Regions from separate parts of the Homo sapiens genome. Here region 2 is linked to region 1. The links come from fine-mapping of genetic effects on gene expression. A gene starts in region 1. The other region holds a variant in brackets. All regions are shown on one strand. Distances are from middle to middle.

Region 1 (5,388 bases):
TCATCTTCAGTCCACTTTTCTTGGTTTATCTGACTCCTGACTAGATTTTTTTTCCTCTTTGCACACCTTAAATTCTCAACTAAGACACTATGAACAGGACAAAATTAAGTTCCCCCCAATGTTTTTTAAAAACTCCAGCTTTAGGACAAAATTAAGTTCCCCCCAATGTTTTTTAAAAACTCCAGCTTTAAACTAAACTTTCATGGGTTCTTCCACAAATAAAAGACATACTAAAAAATCCGAAGATATATATAATTTTAGTGAAATGTTGAGAAGGGATAAACTTCTCAAAGAACAGTAATTTTGCAAGATAAATATTTATAAGGTTTAAATATGTTCTATATCAGACTGAATTCTGAGAATTTCAGAAAGTGATGATAGTACAATATACATAAGAAGTTGTTCTGAAGAAAGGCAGGCTCTAAGTAGCTAAGCAAATATTATTAAATGCCAAACAATTCTATACATTTAAATGTCAGGATTATTTTGTTGGCATTTCTCTTGAAAACAATTTTTAAAGAGATGCATCTTTAGATACATCTTAATTTTAAAAATTGCAGAAGTCATACTTCTAATAAGTTGCTACTGTGATACGTATTGGTATTGGATTTTCTTTTAACTTTCCATTTTGTTATTAGCTAATTTACACGAAACTTCTCTAAGCATCACACTACTCTCAACTATGAGGTTTATGTTTTTAAATATATGCCTTTTCTATTTTTTTTTTTTTTCAGATGGGGGTGTCTCACTATGTTGCCTAGGCTGGCCTCGAATTTCTAGGTTCAAATGATCCTCCCAACTCAGCCTTTAGGGTAACTATAACTGCAGGCACGCTCCACCACACCTGGCTTAAATGTATTTTCTGAATAGTTATAAAAACTACTTACCTAGGTGATATCGCATTACATTCTCACTAATTGCAAGATTAGAAGACAGATTATAGAGTTGTTAAATAATACAATCAACTAAAATTAATGGAAATATTGAATATGGTAGGTTCCCAATATTAGACTGTTGCATTATTGAGTCCATACCGTGACATTTTTGAGGTTTGCACCTTTGAAAAAGTGTTACACATAGATTCTTTTAAGACAATGTTTCTCAAATTATGGCAAGGGAACCACTTGCATCAGAATTGCTGGAGTGTTTATTTAAAATGCTAATTTCCAGACCTCTCAAAAGATCTAGTGAATCAATCTCTACCTGTGGCTTAAAAATTTTAACTTTAACCTCCGTCTCAACAGATTTTCAAGTACGTTTAAGTTTCAGAACCTCTGTTCTACTGCTGCAATGAAGTTTAAAGCTGATTCAAGTTATTCCTTCCATACCTCCATGCCAATATCACAATCATTCCTTTTTCACTCTGCCTCCGTTATAATTTTGACTTCATGACAAGGCAGGGCTGATTTGCTGGATGATCAACGTTTACTTTTAAGTAGAGAGGGCTGTCTCTAGATAGTTACAGAGGACATGGATAGTCATACCTATCAGTCAACTGACAGGAAAAGGATAAGTCTAACAAAAGTACAGTTCCTAGATTTCAAAACCATTTTTTTGAACTAATCTGGGAGGAGTATAGTTGTAATATAAGGAATGACTTTGTGTTAAAGAAAGGACAGGATAACTTAATAGAGGTCTCCCATCTCATTCTGTCACGGTGCTTTTGGGTTCCGGTGATGAATGTGTTCATTTTATGTGGCTTGCTCTGGGTAAATAACCCAGTGCCCTATCAGCTCTGCAGCCCGCGGCCAGCGGCAGTGTGTGCGCGCTAATGACGGCGGAAGGTGCCTGGGGGAGGGCCTGGGGAGGGGCTGGCCAGCGCTATCGCGCCCCTGGCACTTCCTAAGAGACTGAGCCCTTTCTCTGCAGCTGCAGCTTGGATTCCACGCTTTCCCTCCAGAGGAAAGAAGCCCTCCATCTAAATCAGCTGTCTTCTCCACATCCCTCCTTTTTCTCTCCGCCAGACGCCACCCCTACCCCTTCTATTGTGTTGTGCCTTTTCATTTTAGCCCCGCTTCCTACGTAGAGCCCTAACCTCCTTTGTAGCGAGGGCACTTGAGAATTTCTGAACCTCGAGTTGTAATGGAGCTGTATGGAAAGGTAAGCAGGCGAAAGGAGTTCCTTGGGGTGCTTAGCCAGAAATCTCGCTTTCACGCACTTCGGTGTGCGGGTTGTGTGTGTGACTATGTACGCGCGCGCGACTTCTCAGTGCAATTATGCGGATAAACCACTTTCCTTATGTGTGTACCGTTAATCGTCTTTCTCCCCTACGTTTGGTGAATGAGATTGTAAAACTGCCCCACTCTGCCTAAGGAAACGTAGAAACTTTCCCGATTCGGATGGGGAGGGGTAGGGCGGAGAGTCCCAGAGACCAGCTCTGGCTTCGTTTGCATTGGAAATTAGCACAAGGTAGTGTTGTTTCCTAATCAGAAAATCACCATCTACTTCCGAAGGCGATAGTTAGCAAAGAAAAATCTCCAGCTGAGATAAGCTGGGGTCACATTCGCCTGCCCCTGGCGAGGAAAAGAGCAGGGGAGACTGGGAGAGGTAACCCAGGAGCGTTTGGAAAGGAGTAGGGAGGCTCCGCGGCCGAGCCCGACTGGCGGATCGAGCCTGTTTAATGGTTTGCTTGCTTGCCGGGAGTTGTAGTTCACCGCTCGCCCGTTTGCCGGGAACACCCGGAGGGCGAGACTACAGCTCCCAGGAGTGCACGGGGCTCCTCGGCAGTACGCGTGTGCGGCGCCAGGAGAGGACAGCTCCAGTGCTGATGTTGGAGCCGGTTAGCGAACCCCAAGAGTGCAGAGTGTGGAGCGTGGAGCGCCGGGACTGTGCACGCTTGACCGGAAGCCCAGACCAGTGCGGTCCTAGCCAGAGAGAAAGGACATTTGCCAACAATGAGACACGAAGCGCCCATGCAGGTGGGTCCATAAAGAAAGAGTGGCCTCGGGAGGAATTGAAAGAGATGCTTTTCCCCTTGCTCCGCGCACAAGCAGTTCAACGTAAGGAAAGGTCTAGGCGGTCACCCGCGGAGATGCGGCTCTGTGACATGACCCTGGGAACAGAGTTGGGTTTCTTTACGCTCTGTGTGGCTGTGATTGGGGCTGTCTTGATGAGGGATCGGGCTATTCGCAATCTTTCTAGGCTCTGTAAAGAGGATAAGAGTGTCTGTCTAAAATGAAAACCCAAGCAAACAAAAGTCAGAGGAGCATGCAATCTCGTGTTGGCATTGATCTCCTCTCTTGGCATCCGGGGTTTGAGATCGCGGTGAAAACTCACGGATTTAAGGCAGATAGATCAGATTCGGGGTTGAAGGCTCCCCACTGGAGTCGGCATAGAGCGAATTCCGCTTGGTTAAAGGCGCATTAAATAAAGAGAAGCCAATGTTAGGCTCCTCAAAGTCCCCTTTCTTCAGTTAGGCTCCCAGTATCAGCAAAAAATAGCAAACACATCGGGGCTTGGCATATCCCTGAGCTATGCCAGCATCACTGTCCACACAACTGGTTTACTCTGTTTTGGAGACAGCCCCCTCTGAGCTTTCCTGTGTTATGTGCCCATTTGTTCTCCGATTCCCCATTTCAATCACATTCTTAGGTTTGTTTCCTTTGAGAAATGCAAAGGACTCTGGTGCAGAAGTACCACTGCCTAAGCATCTTGCTTAAGTTTTGTTTTTAAGTAAAGATGAGTGATAATTCTCGTCTCTATGTACTACCAGTTAACGTTAAACATCAGCTTGTGTTTATTAATCAAGCAGTGATCCTACTGTGTAACAGAAAGGCATTTTATGAGTGGGGTTGAGAGAAGAATAGAAAACATCATTTGGAATGTGCTGTCTCTCCTGAGAACCCACCTCTGCTGCCAAACCCAAGAGTATAAATATTTGACATTAATTCGGACTTCAGCGTTTTCCAACTGGTTTCTTCATGAATCAAGGACTTTAAACATATGCTTTGATTTACTTTTAATTTATTTTATGGGTTATGTATATTAAGAACCCCTTACTGGACTGTTAGATGAAAAATCTATAGAATTTAATTGTTTGTTGGGTGATTATATAAGGGAAGTCCTCAAATTACCTATGAGTTATTGAAAATTTGATTTGTTCCAGGGAACAGTGGCCCCTTTGTGTGTCTTCTAATACCTCTATTTGTGACTTAGCTTTTCATTATAGACCTGATGTGAAAAGAATCTGAACAGACAATAAAGGTACAGGCTGTTGCAATCAAGATATATTGGTTTATGATAATTTTCTATTACTGGAGATACTACCAGGAGCCAACTGGCTAAATTAATCATATTTAATTATAAGTAAACACTAATTGTAGACTTTAAAAGTAGATCATTATACTTCACTATGTATATGTATATTAAAACATGTACATCTTAAATTTACACAATAAAAAAGATTTCCAAGAATTTTTGAAAAATAAAGTAGATTGTTAATATTTAAAGTAAACTATGTATGCACTGATATTTTTTCAATCAAAATAAATTACGAAAAATTTAACCACACTGTATATCAATTTTGCTTTCTTACAGAGTTGCTTAGAATGTTCAGAAAGGTCATTAAAATATTACAGAACTGTATTAATGTTTCAGGAAACAGTTAAAATTATTTTTTGTGTTCACCAACTATGTAGTAGGCACTGTGATTTTCTATTTTAGTCAAAACTTTAATGAAGAACTAAAATAAAAATAAGGTAAAATGAAATTAATTTGCTTGTGGATGGAGTTATTGTCATATTTATAATGTATTTTTAGTCGTTGGACTAAGTTTTTGAAATTTAAAATTTCCAAATGCTGTCATGAGTAATGTACATTTTAGGAAATCAAAGACTTTTTTAGCATATTTAATTAAAGCACATACATTAATTCAATTTAACTAATAAATTGTTGTTATGGTGACCCCATCTCCATTATTATCAATTTTCAAAAATATGTAATAATAGATAGGATAAAAACTATAAGCTTACTCTGAATATTTTAAAGTAACAAGTAATGTTTCAGCACCGATATTTCTGAATTGTAATCACATTTCACGTGACTTTGATATATGACAATGCAACAAGATAAATAATTGACTTTTTTTTTCATTTAAAGACTGAACCACATCATCATTTTAAATATATGCCCCAAATATTTTTTTACTTAGGTCTGTAGAAGATGACTCACAAGCAAAACCTCATTTTATGGTTCCATAAAATAAGAGATTTCTTCTCTGCTTTTAAAAAATATTTAGTTCATTTGTTGATGTGAAAGAAAATGAGCTTTTTAATGTATTTGCTTATTTCCCAATTTACTTCTTGTATTTTCTTAAATCAAAGAATCCTTTTAAAAATCATGTAAGGTCTTTTAAAAAGCATTTGATGTATCTATATAAATAAGTTGATG
Region 2 (5,388 bases), 33 kb after region 1:
TTAGATGAACACATAAAATACATACTGATCAAATTTAGGAATGACAAATCTGAAAAAGATAACTAATATTTTTGATGAAGGGATTGTCAGATCACAATTGAATTGTAAATCAAAGCAAACAAGAGGAAATTTAACAGAATACACATAAAGGTTGACACTTTCATAAAAAAATAAGTTGTCAAATATAGAATGGGAATAGAAGAAACCTATGTTCATAACAGTTAATGTGAAAATAGTGATGAGCATTTTAAGTCAAGTGTGATAAGATATAATGGTTTCATTCTACTTTGGACTAAGTAGGTAAATATCTAGAATATTGTGACCAATTATGAAAGCCACACATGGGACTTTGAAAATCTGAAGAGGTGTCAGTTTTAACCTAGCAGGATGTGTTCAATTTTTCAGACACGTCCTATGTGGAAGAGAGGCTAAATCAGTTGGGATCATCCAAGCAGGAGGAGAGAAAGCTTATGGAGCCCGAGGGGTTCCTTCAGATACCTGAAGTTCTCTCTATGCTGTAAAGGCTTCTTCACAGCATAGTAAACATCTTGCTGCTCAGTGTGAAGGATGAAGCTAGGACAACAACCTCAGATGATGGATGCCATGAAAGGGACATGGGATGGGTGGGAAGTTGCACGGCCTTTGAAGATTCTTTCCAACTCTATGGTTATTTGTTATTTGAAGTTCAAGATTAATGCCATTTGAAGAGTTATTTTTGTATATCTTTTATGAAATTTGATGTTCCCCTTGACTGTTCCTATTTTCAAATTTCAGCTATGTTTCCCCATGAAAATTTTGAGAATGTTCACATGACTTTAGTATTTAGAGATATCAGTAAACTTACATAGTGCCTGTCTGTAAACCTCTTTGACATTCGTATGCTGTCAAATTGCTTCACTTGTGGTCTCAGCAAGATTAGGGCTGTTTCTTTCTTCATCCTCTGAGCTAGGATTTATTTCATTATTCTGAAGTTATACAAAAACACACATACATTCCAAATGCATATCTTTTTGGCTCTTTGTGGAATCTTATTAGGTGTGTTAAATTAGGAAATAGTACAAAAAAAAACCCATGAACAGTCTTCAAGAGTAAGTGAGTTAATAACTTTTCCTAATTAATTCTTTAGAGGCTCTTCCTGAGAAGAATTTTGCTGGGTGCACATGTCCACCAGCTCTGTGTCCCTCCTAGACCCCCTCTTTTGCCCCCATTACCTTCTTTGCTGCTACCACAACAAGGTATATTAGCCCTTGAAATTAAAGATGTTGCTGTCCCAGTTGTGCTTGTCTTCACCTAAATGCATACAGTCATATTCCAAAAGACTATATATTAGTGATATCTATATAGTTCACCCTTCATATACATGAGCTCCCGTGTGTGGAGTGAACTAATTGCAGATATAAAATATTTGGGAAAAAATTTCATGTGTACTGAACATGTATAGACTTTTTTTCTTGTTATCATTTCCTAAATAATACAGAATAATAACCACTGTTTACATAGCATTTACATTGTGTTAGGTATTATAAATAATCTGTACATAATTTAAACTGTACAGGAGAATATGCATAAGTCATATGTGAATACCACACCATTTTATATCAAGTACTTGAGCCATCTGCAGATTGTGGTGTCCATGGGAGGTACTGGAATCAACCCCTATAGATACCGAGGGACAATTATGTTTCTTCAGGTTTTGAAACCAACTTAATTTTGGAATGGGACCTGAAGTTGATAGCAGCAGTCTTCATTACAACTTTTGAGGTATCCTAGAGATCCTCGGGCCTCAGTTTGAATGCCACCGTAGGGTTATGGGGCTGTAACAGATAGTAAGCTATCAGGCCAAGTAAGTGAGCAGCTCTAGGAAATATATAGTGTCTCTTTTCTGGCTGTGGCTTAGCTGAACATTCTTACCAGACCCCCAAATCCAGTCTGGTTCATATGAAAAAAGGTAAAATAATCTTCTTAATGAAGGCCATTTTTAGGCCTGTTTGAATTTAGCAGCTCATATAGGAGAGGAGCATTAAATGATGAAAGGACAATGTCTGCAGGAATAGCACTGCCAAATAAAACAGTTAACTGGCTTTCTGGGGGACCAGAAATCATCATGGCAAAAGATCATTGTTCAAACTAGTGGTCAAGAGTTGCAATCCTACTTTTGCCCTTTGGCCGGCATGTGTTGGGGAAAGTTGACCTTAGTATGTGGGCTGGTGGGCCAAAAAAGAAAGTGATGCTATCTGCCTGTTTTAGAGGCCGACCTCTGCCCACTGGGAAGCGTTTGTTATAGGTTTTCACAATTTCTAAATATATTTGTGTGGCTGTATAGACTTAAAAAGAGAAATGCTTAAGCTTATGTTTAATAAGAAAATGTAAAATGCAATTTGAGTCTTTATTATCCTTAACTTTCATGAAATACCCACGGGTTTTTTGTTTGTCCTTATTCTTATACATAAAATTG[T/C]GTTATCTTGCTGGCATTAAGTATTTGTAGAAGAGAAATACACAATCTCACCATTTCCCTTTTTCCTTTTTCCTCAGTTTTCTGTAAACATACGTGTACACACACACAGACACACACACACACACACACACACACCCCTGACTTCAGGTAACCAGTGTTGTCCTAGATGAGGCTGAGCACTGTTTCCTGTTTCTAACATTTTTCCATCTCTTGGAGCCTCTCCCTTTTCCTCCCCCTACCCCAAAGAGAAACAAGTAACTATTAATCAGCTTTTATGGGAAATGGAAAATAGACTCTCTAGCCTAGCATTGTACAATAGAGTTTTCTGCAATTATGCCAATGTTCTGTATTTGCACTGTCCAGTATAGTAGCCATTAGTCATATGCTGCTATTTTGCACTTGAAATGTGGCTAGTAGGATTGAGGAACTGAATTTCTAATTTTGTTTCATGTTAATGTAAATTTAAATCACCATATGTGACTAGTGGCTACCATATTAAACAGAATAACAATTGCCAAATAATTTATAGCATCAGAAACTGTGCTGAGCAAATGTACTAATCAGTGGGATGCAACATTCTAAATACCTCTTTTCTATATTGAGCCAAATGGTACTTAGAAGTAATGCAATATCATTTTTGATAGATGTTAAGATGATCATCAAAAAAGATGAATAAAAGCCAATATCCACCTAAAGCATTTGTAATTGATTGTAGAGACCATTTTCTATTTTATGCTAGATGCTTTACATATCGCTTTACAGCTGTATCATCTATTATTTTCACAAGAATTCCAAGTTAGATATTATATTTTCCCATTTCATCTAAGGCAGGAAACTGCAGCACACCAATTTAAAATAACAAACCAAGGTCACACAGCCAGTAAAGAGTGGAGCCAAGTTTTGAACCCAGGTCAGGCTCTCCTTTGATGCATTTCACAATGAATATTTCCGACATGATCTTCTAGGGCACTTGCGCATGCCTCCCTAGTCGTCATTTGGAAGTAGGGCAGGTGTCAAGAACATGAGCCCTGGCACCACACTGCTTGTTTGAATCCTGCCTCTACTATTAACACCTATATGAAGTTGAGCAAGTTACTTAATAATATCTCTGGGCCTCAATTTTCTCATTTTAATATGGAAATATTAAAAGTACCCATCTCATTGGGTTACTGTGAGGGATTAAATAAGTTAGTATCCGGCACATTGTTTGAACTATATATATTTGCCATCATAATTATTTTTAATTTAAAAGACACTGCCCTTTATGTTAGGATGTTGATTTGATATGATAATAAATGAAGTAGAGATATGCTTTGGGTGTGCTTCCCTATGAAATAAGAGAGATTCGAATCATTCAGATAATTCAGGAAGAAATACCCTGCTGTTCAGCCACTTTGGTGTCTCTGTCAGTAGGATTATAAAGTTTCAGAGCCCACATGCCCTGGCCAATTTCTCATCTCTTTGCTTGTCATGTTACCCTTATAGACATCCCCTTTGGTGTCTTTGATTGGTTCTGAATGCTGAGCAGTGACATGCACCAACACAGCTGGAAAGGCCTGTAAGATTTGCTATTCTGTCTTCCAGCAGGGAATTATTGCCATGGATACCAATATCAGAGGAAGACTGGGGAGCACTCACCACTCGCCTCCTGAGTGTCTGACATCTGTTTCTGGCAAGGCCAATAATGAGTATGCTGCTAGCTTCATATCAAATGAGAGTCTGATCTACACCTATTTTGTTTTTGTTTTGTTTTGTTTTTATCACAGATGGCCTCTGCCCAAGATGCCAGGTACGGCCAGAAAGACTCCTCTGATCAGAACTTTGACTACATGTTCAAATTACTCATCATCGGCAATAGCAGTGTGGGGAAAACATCTTTTCTATTCCGTTATGCAGATGACTCCTTTACATCTGCATTCGTCAGCACAGTTGGGATCGATTTCAAAGTAAAAACTGTATTCAAAAATGAAAAGAGAATCAAGCTTCAGATTTGGGTAAGTGGCTTTGAACTGGCAGTGTTCTTCAGGCTGGGGTGTTGAACATATCCATTTGTAAGGGAGAAACTTTCTGCCTTGTTCTATCCCCAGGGCATCCACAAGCCTCAATTTCCAGCTTCTTTGCTGCAGAACATTCTGTTTCAAAGAAAGTAGTGGTGATGCCTCTTTAAGACATGAGGGGTGAATTATTATTATGCCTTGTTGTCATGTGGTGCTCCTTAAGAGTCTTCAGAATAAAAAAAAAATCCAAACCTCTATCTTGTTGGTGGTGGAAGGAACACTTTAAGTCTGGCTTTGCCTTTTATGATCTCTGTAACCTTGAGAAAGTCTGTGACTCCTTCTCTGACATTTTTGTAATCTATAAAATAAGCTAAGTGGTTCTGGGTTTTTAGGTCACAGAAAGCAGCCTCTCCTGGGCATTTCAAAGAAGAAGATAAACAACCAAATATAGGAAAAGTGTAGGTTTAGACCCTTCATAAAGCTCCAGATAGAACTTCAGAGATGGTCTATTTATACTGTGCAAACTGTTTTCAACTCTAAGAGCTATGTTTATATATGCAAATAAAACAAATGAAATGAAATATTTATTTGAAACAGGGTCTTTCCAAAGTAGAAGGTTCTCCCAAAGTTTTGAGACCATTTGGTTAGCTTTTTGCCTCTCCTTACCTCCAGAAGAAGATCAGAGGTAGCTTAGCCAAACTGGTGGGATAAATTTAGGAGACCAGTGAGCAAAAAACAGAGGAAAATCTATGTGGATAGCAGGTCCAAGGCAATATAAAAGATGGAGCAGCCAATTTAAAAAAATTGTTACACCAAAAAAGACTGATGTAGTAAATATTTTATGGACATCGTAATATGTACATAGGAAGAATGTTTCTACAGTAAGTTTTGGCACCTTTTTCCTATTCCTTTGTACCTCTGCCACTCAAATTGATT

Direction of the effects. Positions count from the first base shown, and alleles are read on the strand shown. Sizes are in standard deviations (SD) of each study's normalised expression.
For the expression in cerebral cortex of the gene that starts at base 2,761 in region 1, T is the high allele of the variant in region 2 and C is the other (small effect, 0.13 SD a copy in GTEx).

Evidence for each region. PIP is the estimated chance that this variant, and not a neighbour inherited with it, causes the effect. A credible set is the group of variants that fine-mapping cannot tell apart.
Region 2: its variant is the best candidate, but not a certain one, in a credible set for the expression of RAB3C in cerebral cortex (GTEx, PIP 0.51).

Annotation. Positions count from the first base shown.
Region 1 is chr5:58,580,315-58,585,702 of GRCh38, forward strand. RAB3C (RAB3C, member RAS oncogene family) reads left to right here and starts at 2,761. Exons shown (of 5, transcript NM_138453.4): 1 at 2,761-2,918. The coding sequence starts at 2,895. RefSeq lists a silencer at 2,568-2,767.
Region 2 is chr5:58,613,422-58,618,809 of GRCh38, forward strand. It overlaps RAB3C (RAB3C, member RAS oncogene family), which reads left to right. Exons shown (of 5, transcript NM_138453.4): 2 at 4,222-4,449. Among named protein-coding and RNA genes, the nearest start is that of RAB3C, 33 kb to the left of the region's middle. The variant T/C (reference allele first, on the strand shown) is at 2,456.